Linked DNA regions of Homo sapiens. The protein of the gene in region 2 purifies or fractionates together with the protein of the main gene of each other region. This does not show direct contact. Each region holds a gene or a part of one and is shown on either strand. Other genes may lie near its edges. The genes, in order: CYFIP1, ARHGEF1, ARHGEF2, WBP11, NUSAP1, PTS and PIP5K1C.

Evidence for each region.
Region 1: the proteins of ARHGEF1 (region 2) and CYFIP1 fractionate together in Homo sapiens (co-fractionation; one large-scale study listed by BioGRID). This does not show direct contact.
Region 3: the proteins of ARHGEF1 (region 2) and ARHGEF2 fractionate together in Homo sapiens (co-fractionation; one large-scale study listed by BioGRID). This does not show direct contact.
Region 4: the proteins of ARHGEF1 (region 2) and WBP11 purify together in Homo sapiens (affinity purification with mass spectrometry; one large-scale study listed by BioGRID and IntAct). This does not show direct contact.
Region 5: the proteins of ARHGEF1 (region 2) and NUSAP1 fractionate together in Homo sapiens (co-fractionation; one large-scale study listed by BioGRID). This does not show direct contact.
Region 6: the proteins of ARHGEF1 (region 2) and PTS purify together in Homo sapiens (affinity purification with mass spectrometry; one large-scale study listed by BioGRID and IntAct). This does not show direct contact.
Region 7: the proteins of ARHGEF1 (region 2) and PIP5K1C purify together in Homo sapiens (affinity purification with mass spectrometry; one large-scale study listed by BioGRID and IntAct). This does not show direct contact.

What each region holds. Positions count from the first base shown.
Region 1 is NC_000015.10:22,913,676-22,918,109, reverse strand, and holds part of CYFIP1 (cytoplasmic FMR1-interacting protein 1), read left to right. Parts: intron 1-174; coding exon 175-322; intron 323-796; exon of another isoform or gene 797-1,098; coding exon of another isoform or gene 1,099-1,479; coding exon 1,480-1,633; intron 1,634-3,227; coding exon 3,228-3,384; intron 3,385-4,434. UniProt on the Homo sapiens protein: Component of the CYFIP1-EIF4E-FMR1 complex which binds to the mRNA cap and mediates translational repression. In the CYFIP1-EIF4E-FMR1 complex this subunit is an adapter between EIF4E and FMR1.
Region 2 is NC_000019.10:41,903,149-41,907,582, forward strand, and holds the end of ARHGEF1 (rho guanine nucleotide exchange factor 1), read left to right. Parts: intron 1-158; coding exon 159-259; intron 260-507; coding exon of another isoform or gene 508-525; exon of another isoform or gene 526-558; coding exon 559-636; exon of another isoform or gene 637-638; intron 639-886; coding exon 887-962; intron 963-1,067; coding exon 1,068-1,235; intron 1,236-1,800; coding exon 1,801-1,888; intron 1,889-2,026; coding exon 2,027-2,113; intron 2,114-2,611; coding exon 2,612-2,679; intron 2,680-2,790; coding exon 2,791-2,877; intron 2,878-3,308; coding exon 3,309-3,472; intron 3,473-3,554; coding exon 3,555-3,638; coding exon of another isoform or gene 3,639-3,655; exon of another isoform or gene 3,656-3,660; intron 3,661-3,956; coding exon of another isoform or gene 3,957-4,265; 3' UTR 4,266-4,304; downstream 4,305-4,434. UniProt on the Homo sapiens protein: Seems to play a role in the regulation of RhoA GTPase by guanine nucleotide-binding alpha-12 (GNA12) and alpha-13 (GNA13) subunits. Acts as a GTPase-activating protein (GAP) for GNA12 and GNA13, and as guanine nucleotide exchange factor (GEF) for RhoA GTPase.
Region 3 is NC_000001.11:155,964,469-155,968,902, reverse strand, and holds part of ARHGEF2 (rho guanine nucleotide exchange factor 2), read left to right. Parts: intron 1-2,015; coding exon 2,016-2,083; intron 2,084-2,423; coding exon 2,424-2,487; intron 2,488-3,142; coding exon 3,143-3,272; intron 3,273-3,490; coding exon 3,491-3,600; intron 3,601-3,771; coding exon 3,772-3,915; intron 3,916-4,434. UniProt on the Homo sapiens protein: Activates Rho-GTPases by promoting the exchange of GDP for GTP.
Region 4 is NC_000012.12:14,796,247-14,800,680, forward strand, and holds part of WBP11 (WW domain-binding protein 11), read right to left. Parts: intron 3,483-4,434; coding exon 3,389-3,482; intron 758-3,388; coding exon 561-757; intron 1-560. UniProt on the Homo sapiens protein: Activates pre-mRNA splicing. May inhibit PP1 phosphatase activity.
Region 5 is NC_000015.10:41,370,159-41,374,592, reverse strand, and holds part of NUSAP1 (nucleolar and spindle-associated protein 1), read right to left. Parts: intron 3,067-4,434; coding exon 2,909-3,066; intron 1-2,908. UniProt on the Homo sapiens protein: Microtubule-associated protein with the capacity to bundle and stabilize microtubules. May associate with chromosomes and promote the organization of mitotic spindle microtubules around them.
Region 6 is NC_000011.10:112,231,701-112,235,157, reverse strand, and holds the end of PTS (6-pyruvoyl tetrahydrobiopterin synthase), read right to left. Parts: intron 1,996-3,457; coding exon 1,925-1,995; intron 1,727-1,924; coding exon 1,603-1,726; 3' UTR 1,185-1,602; downstream 1-1,184. UniProt on the Homo sapiens protein: Involved in the biosynthesis of tetrahydrobiopterin, an essential cofactor of aromatic amino acid hydroxylases. Catalyzes the transformation of 7,8-dihydroneopterin triphosphate into 6-pyruvoyl tetrahydropterin.
Region 7 is NC_000019.10:3,644,285-3,648,718, forward strand, and holds part of PIP5K1C (phosphatidylinositol 4-phosphate 5-kinase type-1 gamma), read right to left. Parts: intron 4,425-4,434; coding exon 4,341-4,424; intron 3,103-4,340; coding exon 3,054-3,102; intron 1,775-3,053; coding exon 1,690-1,774; intron 1-1,689. UniProt on the Homo sapiens protein: Catalyzes the phosphorylation of phosphatidylinositol 4-phosphate (PtdIns(4)P/PI4P) to form phosphatidylinositol 4,5-bisphosphate (PtdIns(4,5)P2/PIP2), a lipid second messenger that regulates several cellular processes such as signal transduction, vesicle trafficking, actin cytoskeleton dynamics, cell adhesion, and cell motility.

The DNA.
Region 1 (4,434 bases), on a different chromosome or scaffold from region 2:
TTTAACTTTCCTGTTGAGCTGGTCCATTACCACATCCCTCCATGGCCCCCAGAGTAATTTGTATTTTCATGGGGGCTGTTCTGAGAGCCTTGTAGTTGGGTGAGGAGATGGTGTGATTGTGAGGCTGGAGGTCTCGGCCTCTGGGCCTTGCTGATCACTTGGTGGGGTGTTCAGTGTCCTGCAGGCCATCAGGAAGACCGTGTGTGACTGGGAGACGGGGCATGAGCCCTTCAATGACCCAGCCTTGCGGGGCGAGAAGGACCCCAAGAGCGGCTTCGACATAAAAGTACCACGCCGCGCCGTGGGACCCTCCAGCACTCAGGTTCTCGTCCCTTGAGCCCCGCCTGCACCCTCTCCCTGGGGGGACCCACCCTGAGCTGTGAGCGGGTGGGGCTGGTGAGGCCCGGGTTAAATGAGGTCCTCGCTGCCTGCTCAGGCAGAGAAAGTGGCGCCTGTGGTTTCTGCTGCTCCTCTGTTTCCCACCCAAGTGAGTTGGGAGCGTGAGGAGACGTGCCTTGATTGTCAGATGTGTCATGTGCACTAAAAAGGAGTCTGACTCCATTTCAACTCCCATCCCAAAAATGTGGGCACAAGTCCACGTGTCTGTATTCATTCTGTGTTTCTTGATGGGTGTTTGAATGTCTGTATAATTTTTACGTTGGGTCTGCAAATGACTGTAGATGGGGCGTGGGAAACTGTGAGGTGCTGCTTGCGTGTGTCATGGTCCTAAGCTGCCCACTGTCCTCTCTCCTGGTGTGTTCAGGCCTCCCCGAGGTGCTTCTCACGACTTTCACACCCGGTTTAATCCACACCGCTGCGTCTGTCCTCCGTCCTGGGGCTGGTCTTCTCCCTCATCTCTGCCGGAGGCTTTTAATCTCTTCTGCCACTCTTCTGGAAAGTCACCAGCAATGCACGCTGCTGGCTCTGCAGGAGGGTCAGGGGGACGGCCCTCGGCCTGTGCGTGGTGCCAGCCACCCTCCCTGCCTCCCTCTGCGTGCGTCCCGTGTCCCTGCCTGGGGTGTGTGTGTCGAGTGACTAACGTCTCTCTCCTGCCTCTCCCTCCTGTCTGTCCGTGTCTAGCTCTACCTGGTGCGCACCATGGCCGAGTCCTTGGGCTCTGCCGAGCTGCTCAGGCAGCTCAAGTCTCTGGGCATGGAGAGGCTCTTGCATGCGGTTAACACGTTTCTGAGGCAGTCGTGCACCTACCTACCCCTTTTAACCTTTGGTGGTAAGACATCATTTGTTTCTCTTGACGTTTATGGCACGGAGGCGAACTGCTCCGCTACAAGTTGTTCTTTCCCCAAAGCAGCAGCAACGTGGCCGCGTAGACAGGCACCCGGACCCCTCGGGGAGCTGGTGCGGGGCCCTCCCGACCAGGGCGTAGCGGAGCAGTCCTTCTCTCATGGGCTTTTTGAGTTTGGCATAACTAATGTACCATGTATATTTTCTCCCCCACAAATGTTTCCTTGGATAATCCAGCTTTACATGGTGAGAACCATGCTAGAGTCCCTCATTGCAGACAAAAGTGGTTCCAAGAAAACCTTGAGAAGTAGCCTTGAGGGGCCCACCATATTGGACATAGAAAAATTTCATCGAGAGTCATTCTTCTACACTCACTTGATAAATTTCAGTGGTAAGAGATACTGCTGAGCAGCATCCGGCCTGGCATGTCCTAACACCACTAACACCGTCTAGAATGCTTCCGCCCGCCTGACCACCCCCTACCCCGTCCCTTGGTGCACCCAGACGGTGACTCGTCCTGCCCTCTGTGGCGGTGGCTGTACGTCCCTGGCCTGAGCTCGCTCCACAGGGCGTGGTCCCTACAAGGGTATAAACTGAGGAGCCCGGGCTGGCCCTGAGACATGAACAGAAAATCTTTTCAACCCATGCGGGGTTGGAAACAGGCGAATGTAATCTGGTGCCTGAGTTGAGACACAGGCATTGATAAATACTAGAAATGGCCCTTGCAGACCATGACGTGGGGGGAAGGTGGCGGGTGCCCTGTGCCAGGCAAGCCCATCCTGGGTGACACCCGGCCACCTTGACCGGCCACCGGTGGGTGCGCTCTCTGCCCTCCGTGTGTCTGTCCCGTGTTCTCATCAAGTCCTCCGTTGTCCACCTCTTGCTCAGAACAGGATCCCTGCTGTCTTGGCTGGGGTGCTGCGAGGTATTGGAGGAAATAGTACCACTTTTGCTGTTAACTCCATGAAAGGATGGAGTTCGAGTGTGGGCTCTTTTAATCTGTCTCATTTTTGCGTTAGACAGACCTCCCTGAGTGTGCCTCTAATGCTGCAGCCTGGACATTGGTTTTTATCCTAAGTGAAAGTGAAGAAGTCCTGTTTTTTTGTTTTGTTTTTTGTTGAGACGAAGTCTTGCTCTGTCACCCAGGCTAGAGTACAGTGGGGCGATCTCAGCTCACTGCAAGCTCCGCCTCCCAGGTTCAAGAGATTCTCCTCCCTCAGCCTCCCAAGTAGCTGGGATTATAGGTGCTCACCACTGCGCCTGGCTAATTTTTGTATTTTTAGTAGAGATGGGGTTTTACCATGTTGGCCAGGCTGGTCTCAAACTCCTGACCTTGTGATCCACCCGCCTCGGCCTCCCAAAGTGCTAGGATTACAGGCGTGAGCCACTGTGCCCAGCCAGAAGTCCTGTTTTTATGTCTCCTTTTGAGAAGAACATTTTTAGGTAAGACACAGTGGCTCATACCTGTTAATCCTAACACTTTGGGAAGCCAAGGCAGGAGAATCACTTGAATTCGGGAGTTTGAGACCAGCCTGGGCAACATGGCGAGACCCCCATCTCTATAAAAAATACAAAATCAGTTGGTGGCACGTGCCTGTGTTCTCAGCTACTTGGGAGGCTGAGGCAGGAGGATCGCTTGAGCCCAGGAGTTGAAGGCTGCAGTAAGCTATGATCGCGCCACTCACCTCCAGCCTGGGTGACAGAGTGAGATAGACTCTGTCTCAAAAAAAAAAAAAAGACACTTTCCCCCTGGATCCCACTGAAGGGCTCACAGGGTTGATGAGGTGGCTTTACCTGCAGCTATGCCCAGCTGGTCCTGTCCCTAGTGCAAGGCCCCGGTGACCCCTCCCCACTCATGTCCATGCTGCATGGCTTGGGGCTGAGCGAGGAGGAGCAGGCACCCAGCACACAGCCCTTGTGTCATCTCTGCTAAAGGTTTTTTTTTGCTTGCGGGAGATAACATGGAGTTGTTTGAACCCTCCCAGAAACGCTGCAGCAGTGCTGTGACCTTTCGCAGCTGTGGTTCCGAGAGTTCTTCCTGGAGCTGACCATGGGCAGGAGGATCCAGTTCCCCATTGAGATGTCGATGCCCTGGATCCTGACGGACCACATCCTGGAGACCAAGGAGGCATCGATGATGGAGTGCGTGTCCTGCGGGCCTGTCTCCAGCCTTTGTGTGTGGTGACCGGGGGTCCTCAGAGGAGGTGGCGGAGAGGCCGGGACTGTTTTTAGTATTGTATTTGAAATCAAGTTTCTGGGCCTGGGCAAAATAGCAAGACCCCAGTCTCTACAAAAATGAGAAAACTTAGCCTGGTGTGGTGGCTGATGCGGGAGGATTGCTTTACCACAGAAATTTGTGGCTGCATTGAGCTATGGATTGCACCACTGCATTCCAGCCTGGCCACGTAGCAAGACCCTGTCTCCAAATAAAAAAAAAAAAAAGAGAAATCATGTTTCCTGGGGTAAAGCTTTAGAGATTAATACAAGTAACTAACCAGTTTCTTGGTGTCAGACTGGAATTGAGAGCTCAGGCACTAGAACCAGTCACGTTCCTACTTTGCATGGGTGCTGGCTGGGACCCGGGGACTCAGCCTGGACCAGGGAGATGGATGAACCTGGACCTTCCCCAGGCCTTCGTAGTGCAGGCCCTGTGAGGTGGCCATGCCCGTGAGCTGCCTTGCGGGAGCCCTGTGGCCTGGCCTTTTGTGTGACACAGCCTCTGACCCAGATGAAGTGGGGAAAGGAAGTATTGATTGAACAGCTTTGTTCTGGGGATCAGGACTGTGGACCTAGATGGAAGGGCAGTCTTTCAAAATATAAAGTTCATGGAAGGGAAAGTGTTTGGAAAAGGGTGTGTCTCATGGTGAGCGACTGGGGAGCCGCCCAGCCGGTCTGTCTTCTGAGCACCGTGAGTGGGAAGCCCCTGAGTTCCTTGTGCGTCAGTCCTCACACATCCCTTGTGGTGCCCAGGAGATGGTAAGGGCAGTCACCTTCCACTCTCTGTGGCTGTGGCATGGCCATGCCATTTGTGTGGGCAGAGCCTCTGATGGCTCGTTGCACAGCATTGGGGTGGCGTGAGGAGCTGGAACCAGCTTGGAGGCCTCCTTCAGGCATGGGCCTCCTTGCCCCTGGCCATGGCCTTTGTCCAGATATGAGGTAGTGGGAGACGGGCCTTCAACCATGGGCCATGCT
Region 2 (4,434 bases):
TGGTCTCAAGCTATCCTCCCGCCTCAGCCTCCCAAAGTGCTTGGATTACAGGCGTGAGCCACCATGCCCGGCCAGCTGTCCTTTGTCTAACCTTGGCTGCCCAATCTGGAGCCTCCAGGGCAGGGGTTCACCAGAGCTGCTCTCTCCCTTGCCTGCAGAAGAGCCCACAGAACGGGAGAAAGTGGAGCTGGCAGCCGAGTGCTGCCGGGAAATTCTACACCACGTCAACCAAGCCGTGCGTGACATGGAGGACCTGCTGGTGAGCCTGGGCTGGCCCCACACCCGGGACAGTGGATGGTGTGAGAGCAGGGGGTGGACCCTACCTCAGCCTGTCCAGAAGTCACACCCCACCCCTTGGCTTGTCTCCCTCAAGGGTCACTGTGTCCAGGGGTTGGCTTGGCCCTCAGCATCTCCCTCTCAGGGTCATTGGAGGTCAGGCCCAACCCTCAGCTTGCCCGCATCAGAAGTTGGTCTTGGCTCTCATCTTACCAATGTGGGTCACTGCAGGTCAGCCCCAGCACTTAGCTTGTCCCCATAATGCTCCCGTCTCTGCCCCAGAGGCTCAAGGACTATCAGCGGCGCCTGGACTTGTCCCACCTTCGGCAGAGCAGCGACCCTATGCTGAGCGAGTTCAAGGTGTGACCATACCCTCCTGCCTCCCCCGCCCCCCTACTCCTTGGCCCAGGGGATTCTGTGATACAGCCCCCAGCCTGTCCTGCCCATCCCATAATACACCCAGGAAGCGAGAGCTCTGTCCCCCACCTCATGCCAATCCCATGATCCCCAGCCTGTGGTCATCCCCGGCCACTGCCCTGCCCTTCCCCTCCCCACCAACCCCAATCACCCCCTGCCAACCTGCACAAACCATCACCCCCTCCTGCCCCAGAACCTGGACATCACCAAGAAGAAATTGGTCCACGAGGGCCCACTGACGTGGCGGGTGACTAAGGACAAGGCAGTGGGTGAGTGCCAGAGCAGCTGCCTAGTGCAGGGTGTTGGGGCAGTGAGCCAAGGGCGGGGAGGGGGTCGCGCGGGGGCACGCCGTGTGAGCACTGCTCGCCCCGTAGAGGTGCATGTGCTGCTGCTGGACGACCTGCTGCTGCTGCTCCAGCGCCAGGACGAGCGGCTGCTGCTCAAGTCCCATAGCCGGACACTGACGCCCACGCCCGATGGCAAGACCATGCTGCGGCCCGTGCTGCGGCTCACCTCCGCCATGACCCGCGAGGTGGCCACCGGTGAGTGCAGCCACTGCATGGCCCAGGGCAGAGGGTGTCTTTTTTGGGCAGAGCTGCCTGTGGAGTGGGGAGCAGAACCCTCTAGAGAGCCAGGGAGCCAGCATTCTAGCAAAGAGGTTGAGAAGTAGGTGGAGGTGGGCAGGGCGGGGCCAGGCCTAGAGGGTTTATAAGTGAGGTAGGAACTGCTGCAGGTGTTTGCACAGAGGCGTGTCTTGTGTAAACAAGGAGAAGAAAGGCCAGGAGTCCAGTGAGGAGGGATTTGTAAACATACTACTAGGAAGTTGCACCAGGGCCACAAACACTGGAAGCGGCTGGAGGGTGGGAGTGGCTGGAGGGGTTTCGTTAGGTAAGCCAGGGTACATGCCCGATTCCATAAGGAGGTGTGAGAGGTGGGGCTCAGGAGGACACATCGGGCCCTGGATATTAGCAGACAGTGAGTGGTGAGTTGAGCCATGGGAGCCCTGAGAGCGCCACCACTGTGGGTGACTTCTCCAGCTTGTGCTTAGGGAGGGGCAGGCACTGGGGGGACCTGGGCTCTGAGCCCCATCTCCCCCTCTCCCTGCAGATCACAAAGCCTTCTACGTCCTTTTTACCTGGGACCAGGAGGCCCAGATATACGAGCTGGTGGCACAGACTGTGTCGGAGCGGAAAAAGTGAGGGGGGGTCTGAGTTCTGAGTGTGGGTGGAGGACGCCCAGGTTTCTGGGTTCCCAGGGACAGGAGGGCTGTGGGGAGGCCCTGGCATAGGGTCTGGGGGCTCTGACTGCCCAGGGATTTGGCCTTTCTCCCCAGCTGGTGTGCTCTCATCACTGAGACTGCCGGATCCCTGAAAGTCCCTGCCCCTGCCTCTCGCCCTAAGCCCCGGCCCAGCCCGAGCAGGTGAGGGGGGCCATGGAGAGAGCTGGAGGTTCAGGGAGTGGGGCCGGAAGGCGGGGCAGGCTTCCCTCCACAACTCCAGAACCGTCTCTGTGTGAGCATGCACATGTGTGAATGCATGTGTGTGCATACATGTGTGTCTGTACGCAAGTATGTGACTGTGCGTGCATATATAGTGTGTGTATGCATGCATGTGTGCGTGTGCATGTGTGTGCGTGTATGGTGTGTGTGTATGCATATGTGTGCATGCGTGTGACAGCATGTGCATGCATGTGTGTGTGTGTGCGCATGTGCCGACCCCACCACTGCCCCGTCTGTCTCCTGTCTCCAGGCCTCTGTGTCTTCCATTGTCTGGGCCTCTCTGTCTCCCTGTCTCCCGGCCTCGACCTCTGTCTCTGTCTCCGGACCTCCCTGCCTCCCCACCTCCAGCTCTCTGTCTCCCTGCCCCTGCGGCCCCCCAGGGCCAGGGGTGTGGGGTCACCCAGCACTTCCTCCCCTCAGCACCCGAGAACCCCTCCTCAGCAGCTCTGAGAACGGCAATGGTGGCCGAGAGACGTCTCCAGCTGATGGTGAGACCAGAGGGATGCTGGGTGAGGGGCCAGGTTGGGGCTGCCGGGTGAAGAGAGGCATCCACAGGAGGCCCGGCAGGATCTGAGCTCCCTCTCTGTTCCCCAATCCAGCCCGGACCGAGAGAATCCTCAGTGACCTCCTGCCCTTCTGCAGACCAGGCCCCGAGGGCCAGCTCGCTGCCACGGCCCTTCGGAAAGGTAGCCCAGCTCTGCCCCTCCAGGGTGGCCACCAGCCCAAACAGTGCCTCTGTTCCAACTAGAACAAGGCTCTCCACGTCAAAAATTTCCTTACGCCCAGCTGCCAGAAAACAAATGCTCCAAACCCACCCAGCCTGCACCACTGTCCTGGGTGCCCACGTCCCTCTTCTGCAGCCACCATCCCTTGCTTGATTCTATATTTAGCCTCTTCCTGAACACATCTCTGTCTTCAGTACCTTCCTGCCCTGTCCCAACCCTAAACCCAGCCTCACTTCTTCACCTCCCTTTGGATCCCCGAACCCCATCTGCTCAGCCTTGCCTGGCACCCACCTTCACCTCCAGCCCCTACACATCCCCTTTGGAATCCCCCATCCCAGATCCCAGCCCAGCCCCCTGGTCTCCTGACTCCACCCCTCCTTGCCCCTGGCCAGTGCTGTCCCTGAAGCAGCTTCTGTTTCCGGCGGAGGAAGACAATGGGGCGGGGCCTCCTCGAGATGGGGATGGGGTCCCAGGGGGCGGCCCCCTGAGCCCAGCACGGACCCAGGAAATCCAGGAGAACCTGCTCAGCTTGGAGGAGACCATGAAGCAGCTGGAGGTGGGGCGGGACGGGCCAGGGGTGCCCTGAGTGGGCTGGGGAAGGAAGGGGCCCCCCTCATCCATGACCCCCACCCCACCAGGAGTTGGAGGAGGAATTTTGCCGCCTGAGACCCCTCCTGTCTCAGCTTGGGGGGAACTCTGTCCCCCAGCCTGGCTGCACTTGAGGTTCCCGCCCAGGAAGGTGAGTGGGGCACCTGGGGGCCAGGGCGCTGTCCTGAAAGGAGGGTCCCCCTCCAGAGCTCGCATCCCTACAGCCCCTTCTGTCCATCTCCCTCTTTGTCTTTTCTGAATCTCCCCACTCCACCTCGTGTTTCTCATCTCTGTGTCTCTGTTTCTGATAATCTGTTTCTCTGTCTCTGTGCCCGCCTGCCTCTCCCCACCTCCCCTTCTCTCTCTGCTCTCCCTGTCTTGTCTCTGTGTCTGTCTCTCCCTGTCTCTCTCTCCATCTCTCCCCGTCTCCCCTCTTCTCCTACATCCCCCAGGCCTTTTGCAAGAAGGAGAGGAATGGGGGAGAGGACGTGAGGGACCACCCCCACCCACACAGCTGCCGCAGCATCTCACACCCCGAGGGCCTGAGGAGAGGGAGCTGTGGGCCACGCCTGGGAGGGGCCCAGCTGGGGTTACTGGCCCCGCATGAGCCTCGGCCATCTCTCCCTCCTGCCCTCTGCTTGGGGGACTCAGGGCTCCATTCTGGAGGGCACCACGGTGACCCGGGCCATCTCAGTATTGCCTGTGGGGGCCACCCCTCCACCCCCACCCCCAAGTGCCTTCGCTCTGTTTTTATACCCTGAATTGGAGGTTTATTTTTTAATATATATTATCTAAGAAGAGATCTGTGTGTGTGATGGCGGGGTGGGGCCTGGCATGGCGTCTGGAACTCTCTGTGACTGTCTGGCGTTGACATCCTGGGTCTGTGCCTCTGCGCCTCCCTCCAGTTGTTCATTCATTCATTCATTCATT
Region 3 (4,434 bases), on a different chromosome or scaffold from region 2:
CTGTCATCCACCAGGCACCCCCCTTGCTCCCCGAACAGCTGCTAAGGGTTAGGGGAACTGATTGGAGAAGGAGCAGGAATGTTGTATGTGTGGAGGGGGTGGGGTGGGGGGTGACAGAGGAACTGGGTGGAAAGCTGCCAGCCTTGCAGCTGGCTCTGCCTGTCTTCCTGCGCAGAGCTGGGCATTCAGGACTTCACAGTCCCCTTGCCCCTTTCTTTCTATTGACTATGGGTGGAGCCTGAAATCTCTGCTGTTTCAAGCAGAAGATGTGATTAGGACCCTTCATCTCAAATTTCTAGTGAGAAAGAGGGAATGTAGCAGGGATGTGTGTGTTGAGGGGCAGGGGTTAGAATTCCTGCCCTTCATCCACATCTGAGTGTAGTCCTGTCTTTAGGGAGTATAAGCCAGGAATTCTTTCCTTCCCCAGTACACAGAGGGCTCCTGCTGCCCCCTCTCCCTCAATTCCTCCTGAAGTTATGGCAGAGATGCCTCTGATTAGAGCAGGATTGAAGGTATTGTGACCTGCTACTGAATAGCGGACAAAAGCTCTAGCCTGTAAATCCCTATGAAACTTGGGGAAGGAACCCCCAGAAAGGACCAGTGATGGGCAACCCGCTCGGGTCCCCTTCTACGCTGTGGGAGCTTTGTCATTTTGCTCTTCACAATAAAGCTTGCTACCGCTCAAAAAAAAAAAAAAAAAGAAAGAAAAGAAAACCAGTGAAGCCTCCCTACTTTCCTCACTGTTCAATTTAGAGTTGTGAGGATGAGGAGGGAACCCCAATCTAGATCCCTATAGAGACCTGACAAAATTCCCAATCCGGAAGCTTGTTGCCAGGGGAACAGGGGAGGCGGGCAGCACTATTTTGAGAGCAGGTGGAAAGCGGAGGTTCAATCCAGAGACACTGAGTGTTGGGGGTAGGAGAAGGGAGCTCCAGGGGGGTGGGGGCAGCTGCAACCCCCACTTCTGTCTGCCCCCTCTGCTCCACCCTGTTTGCCTTGTATTTGTGGAAGTGAGCGTGGTGCTGGGTATTGTCTGAAAGAGTTAGCAGAGTTTCCGGTGTTGTTGGATGGGGGAGGGGAAGCTGGAGAGGGCCGGGAGCTGAGGGCATGTCTGGGAAGGGCACGGCCAGGGTCCCAGTGCCTAGGCTCAGCGAATCCTCCTTTCTTCTTCTCTCCTACCCCATGGCAAGGTGGGGTGGAGGATGGCGGAGAAGCAGATGGAGTGTGGGAGCTGTGGATTTGCCTGAGTTGGGGGAACAGGACTCCCTGGGCCTGGAAGGGAGAAGGCCAGGCTTGGTGGGGAGTTGCCTGTCCCTTCTTTACCACTGGAGCCATCAATCAGCCTTGGAGCTGCTGAGGCCCAGCCAGAGTCCAGGGCATGTGGTGCGAGGGAAGGAGCACGGCCTTTGGATTCAGGCCCACCGGAGTGTAAACACCACCTCTCCCACTAGCCGTGTGACCTCTGATGGACGATTTAGCCACTCCAGGACAGGTTCCTCATACATGAAATGAGGATAACTGAACCTCCCTCTACGGGTGGTTAGGATTAAGTAAATGTGGAACATTTACTATTATAAAAGCTCAGGGAATGTAAATTTCCCCTCTGCCCCTAGCCCCCATTCTGGCTGCCTCTGTGCCATCTTCTGTTCTGTGGGAGTCCTCTCTTCCATCTGCCATTCGCAACCACCTTCGTGCTTCTTGAGCTCATCTCTGGCAGCCAGTGACCCCTGCTCCCCTCTGGTCCGCCCTTCAGGCCACCTTGGGGTCAGGATTGCCCATCCCACTTGATTGTTTAATTTCATTCAGCACCTATACCCCCCTCACTTCATTTCCTGCTTGAAGGAAGAGGGAGGTGGGAGGAGAGGGACTGGGGTGTGGTAATGGCCCAGAAGTCGGGGAAGGGGGGAGAGTCCCCGAGGACTGTGTGGCCAGGAGGAGATGGGTGTCTGCATGTGGGTGTGTCCCCTCCTGTACCACCCGGCCCTCCCTTCACCCTCTCTACCCCACCCTCCCAGCCTGCAATGTGACTATCCACAACCGCTGTAAAGACACCCTCGCCAACTGTACCAAGGTCAAGCAGAAGGTGAGACGGCAGGGAGGGCAGAGGGCTGGGGGAGAGGGTAGTGAGTGTGCGGTACCCTCATGCCTTTTCCATTCATTCCCTACCCTGTGTTTCTCACCACCCACCTCCTCACCAAGGGGCAGCCCAGACCCTCAACCCCAGGCCTCGGGCCCCAAGTAGGCCAGGCCTGTTGCTGCAGACATGTCCCCACAGCACTGGGCTCAATCACCCTGATCCCCTTAACCATAGTGCCAGCTTTCTCCTAAGGGGGCCGGCCACCTAGCTCCTGTCCCATGCCTCTGGGGGTGATCCTTGGGTGACAGCCATTCTTGGTATCTCTCTCCTGCTCTCTGTCTCACAGCAACAGAAAGCGGCCCTGCTGAAGAACAACACCGCCTTGCAGTCCGTTTCTCTTCGAAGTAAGAGTGAGTAGTTGGGGAGTGGAGGAGGTCCCCTAAGACCCTGGACCCCAGGCTGCTCAACCCATGGGCTCTGCTGCCCCACTAAGGTTGTTCCCAGGCATAGCACCTTCCTCTTCTTGATTGGAAGCAGATAGTGGGGGCCTAAGGGAGGGTTCGGACTCTTGGACTTAGAGGCAGAAGGGGAGAGAGAGTCCGAATGGGGATGAGGGCTGGGGATGGGTGGTCGCCTGAGCCTGGCCGCAGCCTGCATTTTTATCAGTTATTTACACTGCATTTCGGGAGTGTTGGTAGCAGCTGTCAAGTGTCAATTCAGACAGCTTTGGTGTAACAGAAAGAGCATGGCCCTTAGGTATAAAGAGCAGAGCCTCAGTCCCTGCCTAGCCATTACCCAAGTCACCCTGGACAAGTCTTTTTGTCTTTCTGAGCTCCTGTTTGTTTATAGGCTTATGTCAGGGAGGAGATAAGTAAGAAAAAGCTCTTTGTGAACATTAGAGTATGGCACAAATGTAAGGTGGCATTCTCATTACCATCTTTCTTGACTAGAGGGGCTGAGGTGGAGTGAGAGGATGCCTCATTCCTCATTGAGGAGCCTAGGAGGCCTCAATCCTGGGAAGCACCAGAGTCTGATGTTTGCCTGCTGGGCATCTCTCCCCCACAGCAACCATCCGGGAGCGGCCAAGCTCGGCCATCTACCCCTCCGACAGCTTCCGGCAGTCCCTCCTGGGCTCCCGCCGTGGCCGCTCCTCCTTGTCTTTAGCCAAGAGTGTTTCTACCACCAACATTGCTGGGTGAGCCTCTGTTTGGGGAAAGGGGCAGCCAGAGAGTGTGGCAGTGGAGGCCAAGGGGGTGCTGAGAGGTCCCTTTCCATCCCTGAGTTCAGAACTGTAGACAGACAAATAAGGAGAACTTAGGGGGACCGCCTCTTGGATCCTGGCTTTGGTTCCCTACCTGGGAAGGGATCTTTTGCCCGACTGGGGGTGATGCAGACAGCCTCCACTTTCTTCAGACATTTCAATGATGAGTCTCCCCTGGGGCTGCGCCGGATCCTCTCACAGTCCACAGACTCCCTCAACATGCGGAACCGAACCCTATCCGTGGAATCCCTCATTGACGAAGGTGAGCAGGCCTGGGCCCAGGGGAGCCCTGAGGAACATGAAGAGGGGCTGGGGGATGAGAGGCTGGTGGGAGTAGCCTGGAAGGACAAGGAGGGAAGGGATCTAGAGAAGGGCCAGGGACCCAGGGAAGGGAACTCAAGACCTCTGAGTTGCTTGCCCTGCTAATGTCCAGCAGAGGTAATCTACAGTGAGCTGATGAGTGACTTTGAGATGGATGAGAAGGACTTTGCAGCTGACTCTTGGAGTCTTGCTGTGGACAGCAGCTTCCTGCAGCAGCATAAAAAGGAGGTGATGAAGCAGCAAGATGTCATCTATGGTAAGCCAAGACCACCCTAGTCTTCCTCTTCCTTCACCAGGTCCTGTTTATCTACTTCCTTCTTTATTTTTCTTTTTCTTTTTTTTTTTTTTTTTGAGATGGAGTCTCACTCTCTCAACCAGGCTGAAGTGCAGTGGCATGATCTCGGCTCACTGCAGCCTCCACCTCCCAGGTTCAAGCGATTCTCATTACAGGCGCCTGCCACCATGCTGGCTAAGTTTTGCATTTTTAGTAGAGACGGGGTTTCACCATGTTAGCCAGGCTGGTTTCAAACTCCTGACCTCAGGTGATCTGCCCGCCTCAGCCTCCCAAAGTGCTGGGATTACAGGCGTGAGCCACCGTACCCGGCTGTGTCCTTCTTTCTACCAGCCCCTACCTCTCAAAACCCTTTCCCTCTTGGCCTACAAGACCCTGCCTGGTATCCCACAGGTTGCCCACTAGGTCCCTACCTCTTGATGCTGTTGGTCTCCAACACCCTCTCTTTATCCCTTCTTTATCTCTGTCTTCAGTCTTTACTCT
Region 4 (4,434 bases), on a different chromosome or scaffold from region 2:
TATGCTACAGTTTAATTATCCATTATCCTATTAGTGAACACTTAGGCTGATCCAAGTTTTTGAATTAATTTCTTCTGTTTAAATAAAGAGGATTAGATTTGCAGGTTCACACAGTAGGTATATGTTTAGTTTTAGAAGAAACTGCTATAAGGAAGAGGTTCAACATGACATTCTCCCATTAACTTTTTAAATCTAAGTATAGGCTGAGCATCCCTAATCTGAATATCTAAAATGCTCCAAAATCCTAAACTTTTTGACTCCCATATGATGCCATGGTGGAAAAATCCACACCTGACCTAATGTGATGGGTCGTAGTTTTGTTTCATGCACAAAATTTATAAAATTATCTTCAGGCTATGTGTATATGAAACATAAATTTCATGCTTAGACTAGGGTTCCATCCCCAAAATATATGCAAATATACACAAAAACAAAACAAAATATAAAAAAAACCCAACAACCCTAAATCCAAAACACTTCTGGTCCCAAGCACTTTGCATAAGGGATACTCAATCTGTATAATATTTTAGTTTATCTCTCAAAAAAAAAACCTTGATTACCTTGACAGCATCAAAATATTGGCTAAGTTGAGCCCTCTTCTGTTCATATTCTACTTCTAGCTTTCTCAATTCTTTGTAAATATCTGGATTCTCTTTTTCATAGAGTCGTAGAATACGTTCAAAGGTTTCACGCAGCTTTTTACGCTTGTCTTTCAGTACTTTCTCATTTAATTGTGGCTGTTGCACTGGGTTAAACTCTAAGAGAAAAAGTAGATTATGGAATTAAATATAAGAGGCCACTTCAATTAGGTATCAATAGGTTACATGATAAAAACCTCCATATATGCTAAAAAATTTTTAAGAGATCTAGACACCAGACATACTCTTTTCAATTTTATTCGAAGAACTACAATATTTATTAAAATCCCCACCCTTTTTAGATGGCCACTAATTTTACCTTTCTCAGAAATGCCACCTAATTGACTTTCATCTTCATTGTAATAAAAATCAATTTTCACTGCTCTGTGCTGAAAACCTCGTGAAGATTCTGTCAGATTTGTGTTTACCTACTACGTTAGTCCTGTCAAATTTTGAGATCTTAAGCATTTTACTTGAATTCTCTGATTTTTTGCTTCCTCATCTAAAAAATGGAGACGTTAATCACTTTGTAATAAAGCTATGATGATACAATGGGATTACAAATAAAATATCCAGTGGTGTTTGACTCACCACTTAACTATAATCTTTATAACAGATCCGTATTCCTGGCCTAGCTACTATACAATCCTTTCTCTCCCTAACTAATCATGTGTCAATATGGGGCTTAACTGCAGGTCCTCTATCCCAAGAATAAGACCTCCAGGCCTGCCTGGTCAATCATATCCCCCCATCTTCCTTTTCAGTGAATGACTCAGAGATCAATTAGCACATGATCCAAACTGGGACCAGAACATTCCCTGAGATTTTAAATGTAGATGTGAGAGAGATAAGCTCTCAGATTTTCTTTCTGAATGTGTTATGTAGAGAGAAAACAAACCTAGAGCTGCCTGTGGCCTTGTCTCTCAATCATCACTAATTACACACATATATTCCACCTTCTATCCCAAGGAGTTCATTAGTAGTAAGCTGAATGAGGCTAACAGACATCAGACTAGACAGATGGACAGTACTGATGATGAGACTGGATTTTGAGGCTAGTTTCTCTCAGGGATTTCTCATCTTTTTTTTATGTTAAGACTTCTTAATTAAGACAGCCAATGCATGCTTTTTTCTGCCTTAACTAGTCTGTATTGAGTTTTATAAATTGTAACTAGACCCCTGATGAATAGTATTCTCTTCACCCCTTTCCTTTTTCTTAAAAGAATAACAAATTTATCTTCTTCCTTAAATCCTATTAACTATTATTAATCTTGGCAATTTATTCAAATCCAGAGGGCGTATTCTTACACCATACTAATCCTAGTGTGATTAGTAAAAGCGCTGAATGCCTGAGTTTTAATCTCAGCTTTGCCACTACATAGCAGTGTGACCTTGAGGAAAGCTATGTAATCTCTCCATGCCTGAGTTTTCTTACCTGTATAATAGGGACAGTGCACCTACCCTAAAAAATTGTGACGATTAGAAAACTGGTGGAAAAAAACTGGTGCGTAGGTGTATAGCAAGACAACTACTCAAGAAACCTCAGTTATTCCTATTATCTCCTTTTAAAACAACACATAACATTTGGGGTCATTTAAAGAAGGATTCCCTGATTCCCCAAGGAAAGTAATTATCCCTGCTGATATTTAGACCAGAGGCAGGAAGTGGAATCAGTTACAACTGAACTGGGAAATATCTGGGATCCTGAAGCCTGACCCAGAACTCTTAGCCAGGCTAGCTGCACAGATTCTCCCACATTATTTCAGAAACCTTGTAATAGCCTAATGCCATGACTGAATTTTTTTTTTGTACCCCATTTAATGTATCATTGAGGAGTTTCATTCCATCTCTTTTACTTACTACTCTGTTTTTGGGCAAAACATGGAACTTGTAACGATCACTTTAAAATGCTATTTTACAAAAGTGGCAAAGGGTAGAAGACAAAGTGGCAGAAACTTGACAGGTGAAAAGCACATGGAAGTTAACTAGACTATTTTATTTTCTTGCATGTTTGAAAATTTCTATTAAAAAAACAAAATATTCTACATGTTCTAATATTAAACAGAATGGATATTTGTGGGTTAGGATAAAATTTCCAGTGGCAACATCAATGATTTTCAAACTTAGATGCAAAAAAAGATAACATGCAGCTATTTCATGTGATTCCAGTTATAACAAAGCAGCGATACTTAAAATGCATATGAAGAGTGAATAAAACTATTCTATAAAATGTGAAAAAGGCAGAGAATCCTGGTATAGTATTTTATTATTTGGTTTTTAGGTATTTGATGATTTTTTTCTATATCCTTACTAAATGGATAAGTATCTTTTTGGATCTTCTGATTGGAAAAATTGGAAATTGCCTTATATTCACAGGGGCCTAATACTTAGATTTACATGGTAGTTGCCAACATTAAATAAAAGACGACAAACAAAAAACCCAAGGTTATTTCATAAATCAGATTAAGTCTTCTCCCAAAAAGCAAGCTGGCCAAACTGTGCTTCTGTTATCTCACAATAACAATTAACTGAAAGCCAAATAATCGCTTCCCTCTTATTCTGGTATCTGGGGTCTCCAGTTTGCAACAGCCCTCTAGCACTCCATTTTGTCTCCCTGAAACTAACATTAAATCCAAGCATCAAATGCCATCATGCTGTTCTGTTTTACTTACGCCTATGCTGCTTCACTCGTTACCTGCCTGCCTCTGTACGTGTCAGACTGTTATAGCTGCCTGTTTGTAAATTCTTACCCATTTCATCCAATTTCTCCATGTCTCGGATTATCTGTTTTGGATCCTTCATCTTTAAAACTGCAGCTCGAACCATCATGCGCTGTTTTTTGTTCTTAGAAAAATAAAAGGGCAGATGTCAAGAAGTCAGGCACTCAGGAGTTTTACTTCAACTTGCTTTAAGAATCTAAACAGAATAACTCCTTGGCTTCTGATCACTTGTTTCAACCACCAGAAACAGCTATGTAATTTTTTGCCTTAAAAATGTTTACACTTGTCAAAAAGATAAAGAAATGCTATTTTTAAGATGTGCTTTCTTAGTAAAGTATTTCTTTGAACTCTGAGATCTTTAGCAGTTACTTAAACACACATACACTTTAAATTTCTTTTTTTTAACCCCTTATGTTCTTGAAGACCTTGGGTGATTGTTCCTGCCCCCTGTTGTAAAACCTCTGCTAGTTGAAGTCCAAAGCAAAGGTTGAAGCTAAATTCTAAAATTATATAAAGAATATTTAAAAATTTTGCAGGAGTTAATGCTAAACATGAAAACACAATCGAACATTATTTAAAATCTGTGTTGCTTCAATGTATTATACTATAATACTATAAAGCACAATACTATAAGGCAAATCCTTTCTAATTCTTTTGAAGTACTTTGCCACAAATTCAACAGCTAAGAGGAGAATGCTAATTGGGAAAATGGATATATAAATCTAATATATCTATAAATATTATAAACCTACATATATATATTTAAGCTAATGTAATATATGTAATAGACAGCTAATCAGGAAAATGGATAAAGCTATCTAGCATCATGTTTATTTCCATCCTCATCAGTAGACTTTAAAACAGTTATGTTTTAATGAGTAAAAAAAAGAATTATTTTCAAAAGTATTTTTTAACTCACTGGGAAAAGTAATCAAACAATGGCATTATAACCTGTAGTGAGCTTCTCTGCAAAGTTACTTCAGTTCCTAAATAAAGTTTGGCTTAGTATATCTTACAGTTTTTATAAAAAGCATAAAGTACCTTTTCTAGAAAATATTAGAAATGTTATTCTGAAA
Region 5 (4,434 bases), on a different chromosome or scaffold from region 2:
TTGCACCACAGCACTCCAGCCTGGCGACAGTGAGACTGTGTCTCAAAAAAAGAAAAAAGTTATAGCTTGAATGTTTGTATCTCCTGCGATCCCAAATTCATATTGAAATCCTAACTGTCAATATGACTGGTGTAAGGAAGTAGGGCCTTTGGGAGGTAAATAGGTCATGAATGGGATTCAGGGCCTTATATAGGGACCCCATAGAATTTTCTCTAGCTCTCTTTCTGCCACATGAGCATACAACAAGAAGTTGGTAGTCTGCTACCTGGAAAACAGCCCTCACCAGAATCATGCTAGTGCCCTGATCTGCCCTCATCCAGCCTCCAGAACTATGAGAAAGAAATTACCGCTGTTTATAAGATACAGTCTTTGGTGCTTTGTTATATAATAGCAGCCGCAAAGGACTAAGACAATCTACATGAATAGTCTGAAATAGATGAAAGTCTGAAATAAGGGTTAAAATGGAGAAAAGGGGAAAACAATAATTGAGGAAAGCTAACCATTGAGATTAATTTCCTTTGCTAAGCAGCTTTGTAAATGTTCTGAATATTTTGTTTTTGTATTTTTAGTAGAGACGGGGTTTCAGTGTGTTAGCCAGGATGGTCTCAATCTCCTGAACTCATGATCCACCTGCCTTGGCCTCCCAAAGTGCTGGGATCCTAGGATCAGCTGGGAGTTTAGAATTCTGTTGAAGGAAATGACGGTAACTTTTCAGCTTATTTCCCTGATAACAGATATGGCTCACACCTGTAATCTCAGCACTTTGGGAGGCTGAGGCAGGAGGATTGTTTAAAGTCAGGAATATTATTAATAAGGGCTCTTATCACTTCAGAATATTAATTTTTGGCTGGGCGCGGTGGCTCATGCCTGTAATCCCAGCACTTTGGCAGGCCGAGGTGAGCGGATCACGAGGTCAGGAGTTCAAGACCAACCTGGCCAATACGGTGACACCCTGTCTCTACCAAAAATACAAAAATTAGCCGGGCGTGGTGGCGGGCACTTGTAGTCCCAGCTACTCGGGAGGCTGAGGCAGGAGAATGGCGTGAACCCAGGAGGCGGAGGTTGCAGTGAGCCAAGATGGTGCCACTGCACTCCAGCCTGGGTGATAGAGTGAGACTCCGTCTCAAAAAAAAAAAAAAAAAAAGAATATGAATTTTTGCACCACGAAGTTAAAAATATCCAGGATGGTGTAGTTTTTTTTAATTTTTTTGAGACGGAGTCTTGCTCTGTCTCCCAGGCTGGAGTACAGTGATGTGATCTCAGCTCAGTGCAACCTCTGCCTCCTGGGTTCAAGTGATTCTCAAGTGAGTAGCTGGGATTACAGGCGCGTGCCACCACGCCCGGCTAATTTTCGTATTTTTAGTAGAGACGAGGTTTTGCCATGTTGGCCAGGTTGGTCTCCATGCCACCATGCCCAGCCTAAGGATGGTGTAGTTTAGTTAGCCTTTTTGCTACAGTTGGCCATCAGTTAATCCTTTCTCTCCCAATCTCTTTTTTTTTTTGAGACAGGGTTTCACTGTGTTGCCCAGGCTGGCTGGAGTGCAGTGGCACAATCTCGGCTCACTGCAACCTCTGCTTCCTGGTTCAAGCGATTCTCCTACCTCAGCCTCTTGAGTAGTTGGGATGATAGGTGCATGCCACCATGCCCGGCTAATTTTTGTATTTTTAGTAGAGTTGGGGTTTCACCATGTTGGCCAGGCTGGTCTTGAAATTCTGACCTCAAGTGATCCACCCACCTCGGCCTCCCTAAGTGCTGGGATTACAGGCAAGAGCCACTGCGTCCGGCCAATCCTTTCTTTTCATAGGGGGAAGCCACAGGTCATTGCCAAATGTGAACCCTTGCCTACATCTGTGAAACAGCAATCAGGATCTAAGACCACTTAGTTAAAAAAAAGCACAAAACCCTGTGTTCAAGCTATCCCACTGTATCAGTATCAAATGCTGACAGGGAGTAGAACAAGGGACTGCCATACACTGCCACTGGAAGCACAGATTGGTACAATTCATTCAGGACAGTAAATGTCTGCATATTTTCCAATCCAGCTGTCCTGCTCCTAGGTCTAGGGAAACTCTTGCACATGTACAGGAGACATGTTTAAGAGTATTCATAGCAACATCATATATAATAATGGAAGCTGGAACCACCCACATGTTCGTGAATAGTAAAATAGATAAACTGACATATACCCACACCACTGAAAAATACTGTGAAAACGAGTCAACATGGTTGAATCTTGAAACATGAAGTCTGTGGTCTGGGATCCTGTTAGTGTCAGAGTCCTCCAGGACCTTTCCGAGGCTGCAACGAATACTGTGCTCATCCTCCGAATCCCTGAGTCCCACAAGGGGCACAGTGCCCTTCCTGGAGGGTCACCATTTTAGGATTAGATGGAGCTCTCAGGCAGATATCTGGTTTTTGCTTATGTCTCTGGCATTTCCCCCACTAGTACACAATTAAAAATACACTATGGTAAAATTTTTGCTTTTGATTATAGAAATGGAAAGGGTTTAAGGAAACAGATACAGGCCGGGCGCAGTGGCTCACGCTTGTAATCCCAGCACTTTGGTAGGCCGAGGCGGGCGGATCACCTGAGGTCAGGAGTTTGAGACCAGCCTGACCAACATGGTGAAACTGTCTCTATTAAAAATACAAAATTAGCCGGGCATGGTGGCATGTGTCTGTAGTCCCAGCTACTCAGGAGGCTGAGGCAGGAGAATTGCTTGAACCTGGGAGGCAGAGGTTGCAGTGAGCCGAGATCCCGCCATTACACTCTAGCCTGGGTGACAAAAGCGAAACTCCATCTCAGAAAAAAACAAACAAACAAAAAAAACAGATATACCTAATCATTTTGGGAAGTTACATGGCTTAAAAATGAAACAGATTTCTTTTGTTTTTTTTTTTTTTTACCAGCAGCAGAATTCCCCGTGATGGTCTTTAATTTGTGTGTCCCAAGCACAGCCTCGCCTTTTGGGGTGCCCCCAGACACGGTCACATGTGCAGACTTTCTGGCTGGAGTCTTGGTCAGTGAACGCTTATGCTCATTATCTTTAGTAGCAGCTGAAAACCTAAATAGGACAGCAGAGTACAAGACATGAGTACTGTGGCAAGAGTAACTTGTGTCTAGCTTATAAATAAAACCACTTGACTATTAGCAAGCAGTGAAAAGGGCCTCAATTAATAATTGTCATAGGAACGAACCTCTTTTGCAGAAGAGACATATTCCTAAAAGGCTAATGCTAAATTAAATCACATATCAACTAACATTATTTGTAAAATATGTTCTTGTCTTTTCTGCTCTCCCTGCCTTGGACAATGATGGTGATGGAGGAATAGGTGTGGAGGCCTCATTATAGTCCAAGAGGCAAGCCAAAAGCTCCCCTTCCTCCTCCTCCTCCTCCTCCTCCAGGTTAGGGGAAGTCACAGGTAGCAGAAGACTGCTATGCTAGGTGAGTGGTGAGAACAGGTCTTGTATGTTCCTAAAAGAATGTCATTCATTTGTGTGGTAGAGAAATAAGCCCATTCTTTACCATTCTTTACATATGGCAAATTGCCACAAATGTATTTGATTGATTGACTGATAGTATTTTTTCTACATTTTAACATCTCTGAAATTGGGATGTGTTTTTACAATTCATAAGATGTCAATAGTTAATTGGTAGTGTTTTTTCTTGAGACAGGTTCTGGCTCTATTACCCAGGCTGGCATGCAGTGGTATGATCTCAGCTTGCTATAACCTCTGCCTCCTAGGCTCAAGCCATCCTCCTGCCTCAGCCTCCCGAGTGGCTGGGACTATGGGTATGTGCCACTGCGCCTGGCTAATTTTTTTTTTTTTTTTTTTTTTTGAGATGGAGTTTTGCTCGGTCGCCCAGGCTGGAGTGCAATGGTGCGATGTTGGGTCACTGCAACCTCTGCCTCCCAGGTTCAAGCGATTCTACTGCCTCAGCCTCCCCAGTAGCTATGATTACAGGCATGCGCCACCATGCCCGGCTAATTTTGTATTTTTAGTAGAGATGGGGTTTCACCATGTTGGTCAGGCTGGTCTCAAACTCCTGATCTCAGGTGATCCGCCTGCCTCAGTCTCTCAAAGTGCTGGGATTACAAGCATGAGCCACCGCGCCCAGCTAATTTTTATATTTTTAGTAGAGATGGGGTTTTGCCATGTTGGCCAGGCTGCTCTCAAACTCCTGGGCTTCAACCATTCACCCATTTGGAGACGGAGTCTCGCTATGTCGCCCAGGCTGGAGGGCAGTGGTGCGATCTCAGCTAACTGCAAGCTCCGCCTCCTGGGTTAACACCATTCTCCTGCCTCAGCCTCCCAAGTAGCTGGGACTATAGGCGCCCGCCACTACGCCCGGCTATTTTTTTTGTATTTTTAGTAGAGACGGGGTTTCACTGTGTTAGCCAGGATGGTCTCGATCTCCTGACCTCATGAT
Region 6 (3,457 bases), on a different chromosome or scaffold from region 2:
GGAGGCGGAGGTTGCAGTGAGCCGAGATCGTGCCACTGCACTCCAGCCTGGTGACAGAGCAAGACTCGGTCTCAAAAAAAAAAAAAAAAATTAAATTGAATAACAAATAAGTAAGATCAGACTCTCAAAAAATCTGGAAATATTCAAATTGTCCCTTTTCAGAGTCTGTGTTTTGGAGTCAGAAAGACCCTGAATGTTAAACATCCAGTTTGCAATTTATTTGCTGAATGATCTAAAGCAAATAGTTTAAACTCTCTCAACTTTAATTATCTTACCTAAAGAATGAGAATACCTACCTTGCAGGGTATTTGTGTGAATTAAAACATAAAGTGTCTTAATAAATAACAGCTATCTGCCTTTCAAGTAATCAATACAAAACATTCTACATAGAGAACAAATTGTTTGATAACTAAAATACATTCAAATATAATTCAGTGGCCATTTGCATTACTGTCAAACTTTATATTTCTGCAATCACTAGAAAAGACTATTCTTTGCAAGTTTTTCTAGAATAGTAATCACTGCAAAAGTCCTTTTACTATTTTCAGGCAACAACATTCTGGGAATTCATTGTATACTAGTTGCTATGTGGAGAGAAAATCAGAACCCTGCGTTTAAGACATTTAGAAAACAAACAAGAACACAGAACAGTCTTCCGTGCAAAGTAAGCAAATACTTTCTTGTGGATTTAGTCACGAGGAAAAGATCCCAGAGAAGAATGCCAAGCATATAGTAAGTTTAATAATCAGAACAAAATGGGATCAATTAGGAAAAACTATATACAGGAAATATTTTATATGGTAGTTGATCCTTTTTATGCTGACTATTTTTTAGAGTTTAAAATATGATTATTCTGCAGTCTTCTGAGTTGAAATTATTCAAGTGCCCATCAGGTTCAGAAATTCAGAGGAGTATACTGAATAATTTACTGATATTCCATGATATGTTTAATGTGTTGTTCCTCACTAGCAATTCATAGTTCAATACGCTGTGCAAAATTGTAATGAATGATGTGCTCTAAAGCAGCATTTCCATCAATATTTGTACGTGTATCCACAACAGATGCCTCACATGATTTGTGTGTCTAATTTTCACTGAATCCACTTATGCCTTCAGCACACCCAACAAGTAGTAATCAAGAGAGTTCAATCTATTAAATATACATATATATATTGTCTCCAGACTTTGTGGTCACTTGAATTTTATTTCTTTAAGATTCACCTACTCGAAGTCACATAAGCATTTTAACCATGTATATTATACCAAGTAAAAATTAATACTAAAATGAGGTAATGGAGAAAACAAAATTAGATTTCTTTTGCTTTCAAATAATCCCACACCAAAACATTTTGTGAAAATGAAGTGATTTTTAATTTATAAATAAAAGACTCTCTAAATGATTTTCAGGATGTATATTACAAGTTTAGTTTTAAATAGACTTAAATTTATAACAGGTCTTACAATGATTTCAATAAATAGGCACTCCAGAGCACAATGTGTACGTACAACAATCACGTGTTGACCTCTTAATATTCCAAGGGGATCAAAATCTTTTTCAAACACAGAAAGAAACTGGGCTTTGTGCAATGCTAACCCCAATAGCTATTCTCCTTTATAAACCACAATATTATTGTCAGTTTCGTATACTTTTACTTTATAAAGAACTCCTACAGGAAGAACTTTCTGGAGGTTGTCCCAGATATAAACAGCTACATTTTCAGTCGTGCTATAAGAAAAAAAAACAAAAACAAAAAAAATTCAAAATGCAAACAATAAAATTTCATGTTTAATATTTACAGAAAATAGAAATTCTAGTTTCGAAAGATTTCATTAAATTAAAACTTCAGAAATCACACAACAATCAAAGTATTCAAATCAATTCTTGTTTTACAATCCACATAAGGCAAGATACAGTGCCACCCACCTCACCACATCTGCAAAGTATGGCACATCCATATCCAGATTCTTATGATCAAGGGGCTGCATAATCGCCTCCTAGAGACAAAACCAAGGGAAAATATCATTGACTCCATTTACGACTCAAATTCCAAATTGTTCCACTTATGCCTCTAAACCTCACCTTATCACTTAGCCACTAACTAAATATTTGTAAGTACTAGATTTGAGTCTTACAAGGCAACTTTACAAAATTTCAAGTTGTAAAATAAAGTCAGGCCCAGCTGTCGGTAATGATTAGGAATCCTTGTTACTGAATAAAAAGAGGTGAGAAACCAAAAAGCAGAGAATTCCTGGAGCTTTCTCGCAACACAAGCCATTGTAATTCAGAATTCAGTTTAACACTTTGTGAATCCTGTCCAAACAGTTAGCACAAATATTTTTCCATAACACTGTCACACCTACGGAACAATGCCACAATATCATAAGGACAAAGATCCAGTGACTACTACATTTTATAAAGCAGACCTAGACTGAAATTATGTAAGTAGTTCTAAATTTTTGCTATGAGGAATAATTTAAGAATGATCTTGGGCTCATAGAAGGAAAAATATATATATGTAAAGACTATTACTCCCTAATGCTCGTGTATATTAACATAATGTTTTTCCTCATCATCAGCAAGGATTAAATTGCCTCATTCTTTCTAGGTTTTTGCTTTTAGCTATTGCAAAAAATCTAAGCATCTGTGAAAAAAAAATGTAATTTTCCATAGGACGTAGTTTGAAGAAGGGTACATTAATAACAGTAACAGCAATCATTTCTTGAGAAAAACTAGAATCATACAAAAAGAGTAAGTCCTAGATCAAACAGTTATTGAAATATATCCAATGAAGGGATGTTCCACATGAATAACAAGAAAACGGGCATCCTTGCTTCATCTTCAATCCCAGTTCCAGTCCCAATTTCTCCATTAAAGCCTCTTATGCAGGGCTTTTTGTTTTCTTTTGTTTTGTTTTTAGAGACAGGGTCTCTGTCATCCAGGCTGGAGTGCAAGTGGCATAATCATAGCTCACTGCAGCCTTGAACTCCTGGACTCAAGCAATCCTCCCCCCACGGTAGAGCTCTAACTTTACTCTACATGCCATGATAAGCCACTTTTACTGATGAAAGTGTGTGGTGTCCTTCAGGCATACAAAAGCAGAAAACAGCATAGAGAAGCCCTCCTCCAGTATTTAGTCATATGTTGAGGCCTTTTATGTTGCTGTCTTGTCTCTTTTCTTTCTTTTCTTTTCTTTTCTCTTTTTCTTTTTCTTTCTTTCCCCTCCCCTCTCCTCCCCTGTCCTCCCCTCCCCCTCCTCTTCTCCTGTCTCTGTCTCCCTCTCTCTCTCTCTCCGCCTGCCCCCCAACCCCTGCCCCATAAATGCATGCTGGCCCTATCTGTATAACTTTCCTAAAGTATTTTGAGCATAGTGCTGTTTCTTCATTCACTCATTCTTCTACTCATTTATTAAATCAACAGTTATTTAATAATATTCTTCACCTCCTAGAAAAAGTAATG
Region 7 (4,434 bases), about 38 Mb from region 2:
TGCTGGGGGCTCATAGCAAAGCCCAGACAGGGCCGCCGCCCACATATACCCCACGTCCCTGTGGCCCACCAGACCCCTACCGGTCCCTGAGGCCAGGAAGCACCACAACCTCTTGGTGGAAAACCGGGGTCTGCCTGGGGAGGGACTGCGAGCCCGAGTTCCCTGTCCTGCCCACCCGACTGTCTCTATGAGACACACTGGGACCTGGCACAGTGCCTGCCCCTCCTGGGATCCTGCAGACCAGTGACTCCCATCTAATGAGCTGGCCAGGGATGCCTGCAGGCTTCAACCCCTTCTATGTGCGGCCCAGCCCGGGCAGGGCCCCCACTTTCAGATGGACACTGACAGCCTTGGGGAGCACCAGGTGTTGTGGTTAGAGAAGCCTGTGGCTCAGCATGTAGGGCCTGAGCGCAGATCCAGGCTCACCCGCTGGCTGTGCGGCTCGGTCTCTCTGGGCCCTGGGGGCCGACCTTAGCGGTGGGGTGAGGTGGGGCAGGTGATGTCCCGCACAGGGCCAGGCCTGTCCTCAGTGCTGTGTGAGCTCTGCCTCCTCACCAAGCTCTTGTGACCTCTGCCCCCAGAATGACCCACACAGCTCCTGGTAAACAGTAGGTGCTCAGTTTGCCTTGTGCAGCTTCCTACAATCACCAAAGGCTGGCAAACAGCCCTGGATGACGGAATGATCCTGTGGCATCGGTCCCAGAGAGTGGGGTGTGGGGACAGGCTCAACGGCTGGCTCTCTGGAGACAGATCCTGACACGTGGTGTCTGCCAATTCCCACGGTGTTGATGAGAGGGGGTCCCTGACCTCGAGGCCGTGAGCAAGTGTGCAGGCCGGGAAGAGCAGCCTGCCTGCAAGCGCTGGGCACTGGCGTGCCTGTCCCTGCCACCTCCCTGCAACCCCCGTGGGTGCGGACCCGCAGATCATTCATGCCCCCCACCAGACACTTCCCAAGCATCTCTGTGGGCCAGGCCTGTGCAGGATGCTGGGGAGCCCGGGAGCCTTCTGGTGGGGAGGGTGGCTGAGAAACAGACCCCAGGGGGGAATCCATCTGGCAGCAGGTTGGCCACGGGCTGAGGTCTGCACAGGGGCCTGGAACCCAGAGTCTGCGTCCAGATGCTACAGTGGCCCATGAGGGGAAGCTGAGCCCTGAGAGATGGGGACCTCCCCCGGGCACCCTGTGGGTGAATCCCGAGTCCCCACCTTCCCCACCACTGTTTGCCCTGGGACCTTCCCGACCATGCCCTGCTGGGCTAGCCTCCTGCGTTCCCCTGCCCGGGGTGCGTTTCCTTGGCGATGGTGATGCTGTGGGCAGCCCCACACACTGTGAGCTATCTGCTGAGTCAGGCCCACCCATCCCATATATAAACACTGTACCCTCACAGTGCTGTGCCAATGGGGAAACCAAGGCACAGAGGCAGGTGCCTGCTCAAGGCCACATGGGCAGGACGAGGCCAGGCTAGGATTCAGGCTCTGGCGGTGGCTCCAGACCCGTGCTCTACCGCTGTGCAGAGCAAATATCCCGACTACCCTACCTCCGGATGAGGCCCGGTCTGAGGGGGGCACAGGGGCTCTGAGTTTACTGCCCTGCCCAGGGGGCTCTCGGCCTCCCGCAGAGTCCCTCCTGCCCCACGGCGCTCTGGGCCTTCCCCAGGGTCCCTCCCGCCTTGCGGGGCTCAGGTGGCTTACAGGAGTTCTTCCGAAAGACCGTGTTGCTCATGAACTTGAAAAAGCGCTCGGCATAGAAGCTGGGGCGGTGGACGGACACCGTGTCCTGGAAGAGAGTTGGGGGGGGTGCCCGGGGGCAGAGGGTGCATCAATCAACAGCTGGGGACAGCCCCAGACAGACGCTGTATGTGTGTGGGGGGCACCTTCTGTGTGAAAAGGCTCGAGATGGGTCCATGGCGCCATGGCTTCCTGGGAGGGGCTCACGGAACAGGGAACAGTGGCTCCCTCTGGGGAGGGAGACTGGGTGCCAGGGAATGGGTGGAGGCTTTTCCACTAGAGACCTGTTAGCATTTTTGACTTTTTAAACCAGCTGAATAAAGTATTCCGGCCAGGCACAGTGGCCCACGTGGACTTGTAGGGGAGGCTGAGGCAGGATGGCCTGGCTGGGGCCCTGCTGGGATGTGATCTCGGCCTCCCAGAATGCAACCTCCTTTCCCAGCCTCCTTGGGTGAGGAGTGGCCACGTACCAGGACTGTGAACGACTCCACCCCCGCAGGCTGCAGTGGGAGGTGGTGCCCGGCCACTCTGGGCCAGGGGACAAGGACAACCCCAGGGACATGCGGCGGCAGCACAGGACACCCTGGCCAGCCTCGTCAGAGCCGAGACAGCGCTCCTATCTGCCCTGGGCAGCAGGTTCCGGGCCTTGGCAAGGTTTAAGACATCCCCAGAGGCCTCTGCCAGCTGCCATCCTGACCCGCTCAAGGCTTATTCTGGAAGCTCCTGCCTGGACCTTCTACACGCTCTTTTGAAAAATGGGGGTGCCTGTTGGGATCTTGGATTCTACAGGCTGTGGTCACACAGACGTTAGTCCTCAGTGCCTGGCCCCAGGCGGTACTCTGCGTTTGTGGAGTGACGGATGGGAGGAAGGCTGGGACGACAGACAGGAGGACAGAGGGAGGAAGGATGGGAGGAGGGGTGCAGGCACTCACAGAGGGAGGAGGGATGGGAGGAGGGGTGCAGGCGCTCACAGGGAGGAAGGATGGGAGGAGGGTGCAGGCGCTCACAGAGGGAGGAGGGATGGGAGGAGGGGTGCAGGTGCTCACAGAGGGAGGAGGGATGGGAGGAGGGTGCAGGCGCTCACAGAGGGAGGAGGGATGGGGGGAGGGTGCAGGCACTCACAGAGGAGGGATGGGAGGAGGGTGCAGGCACTCACAGAGGAGGGATGGGAGGAGGGTGCAGGCACTCACAGGAGGAGGAGGGATGGGAGGAGGGATGGGAGGAGGGTGCAGGCACTCACAGAGGGAGGAGGGATGGGAGGAGGGTGCAGGCACTCACAGGAGGAGGAGGGATGGGAGGAGGAATGGGAGGAGGGTGCAGGCGCTCACCCCATCGTGGACGAGGGCCTTCCAGGTGTGCTCCAGTTTCTTGATGAACCTGTGGAGAGAGCACCCGGAGTGGCAGCTGACATCAGCCAAGCCCATGCCAGGCCACCTCACTCAGGGGCCACTGTGCACCCCCCAGGACACTGGGCCATGGCCTCAAGCAGTCGTGGCTGTCAAAACTCAGGGTGGCAGGTGCTCCTGGCAGGGAGTGGGTGGAGGCTCTCTGCTCAGTACCCTGCAGGGCCCAGGACGGCCCCACCCCAGAGAACCATCTGGTCCCAATGTCCATAGTACCGAGGGGGTGACTGTTTTTAAACATTCTAGAGCCCCAGCTGAGCACGGTGGCTCACACCTGTAATCCCAGCACTTTGGGAGGCCAAGGCAGGCAGATCACCTGAGATCAGGAGTTCAAGACCAGCCTGGCCAACATGGTGAAACCCCATCTCTACTAAAAATACAAAAATTAGCCGGGCGTGCTGGCGCGTGCCAGTAATCCCAGCTACTGGGGAGGCTGGGGCAGGAGAATAGGGTCGACTCAGAAGGCAGAGGTTGCAGTGAGCCAAGATCGCACCAATGCTCTTCGGCCTGAGTGACAGAGCGAGACTTTGTCTTAAAACAAACAAATGAAAAACCAAAAAACAAATATTCGAGCCCCAAAGTGAGGCCTCAAACCCACTCCTTGGATTTTCTTTTTTCTTTTTTTTTGGGACAGGGTCTTGCTCTGTCACCCAGCCTGGGGTGCAGTACGGCCATCATAGCTCACTGCTGCAGCCCCAGACTCCTGGGCCCAAGGAATCCTCCTGCCTCGGCCTCCCAAGTAGCTGGGACTGCAGGAGCACCACCACGCTCAGCTAATTTTTTGATATTTTGTAGAGATGGGGTCTTGCTATGTTGCCCAGGCTGGTCTCAAACTCCTGGGCTCAAGCAATCCTCCCGCCTCGGCCTCCCACAGTGCTAGATTACAGGTGTGGACCACTACGCCCAACTCACTCTAGATTTTCAAGGCGACCAAACACCTTCCCTTTAGGGCTCAAGAAGGGGCAGCCAAGCAAGAGCTTTCCAGGTTGAGGAAGCCCCGAGAGCTGCTGGTGCGGCTGTTTCCACGGGCAAGCGCCTCTGTGCATGGGTGTCCTGGGGGCGCCCATCCACCTGTGGGACTGCAGACCCAGGCGCCCACCTGTGGGGCTGCAGACCCGGGCGCCCACCTGTGGGGCTGCAGACCCGGGCGCCCACCTGTGGGACTGCAGACCCGGGGCGTCCACCTGTAGGACTGCAGACCCGGGCACCCACCTGTAGGACTGCAGGATGTCGATGATGCCAATGTGCAGCAGCAGCCGCTCCCCGCGGCCGTTCACAGCGGGGATCCCGCCCATCCTGGGGAGAG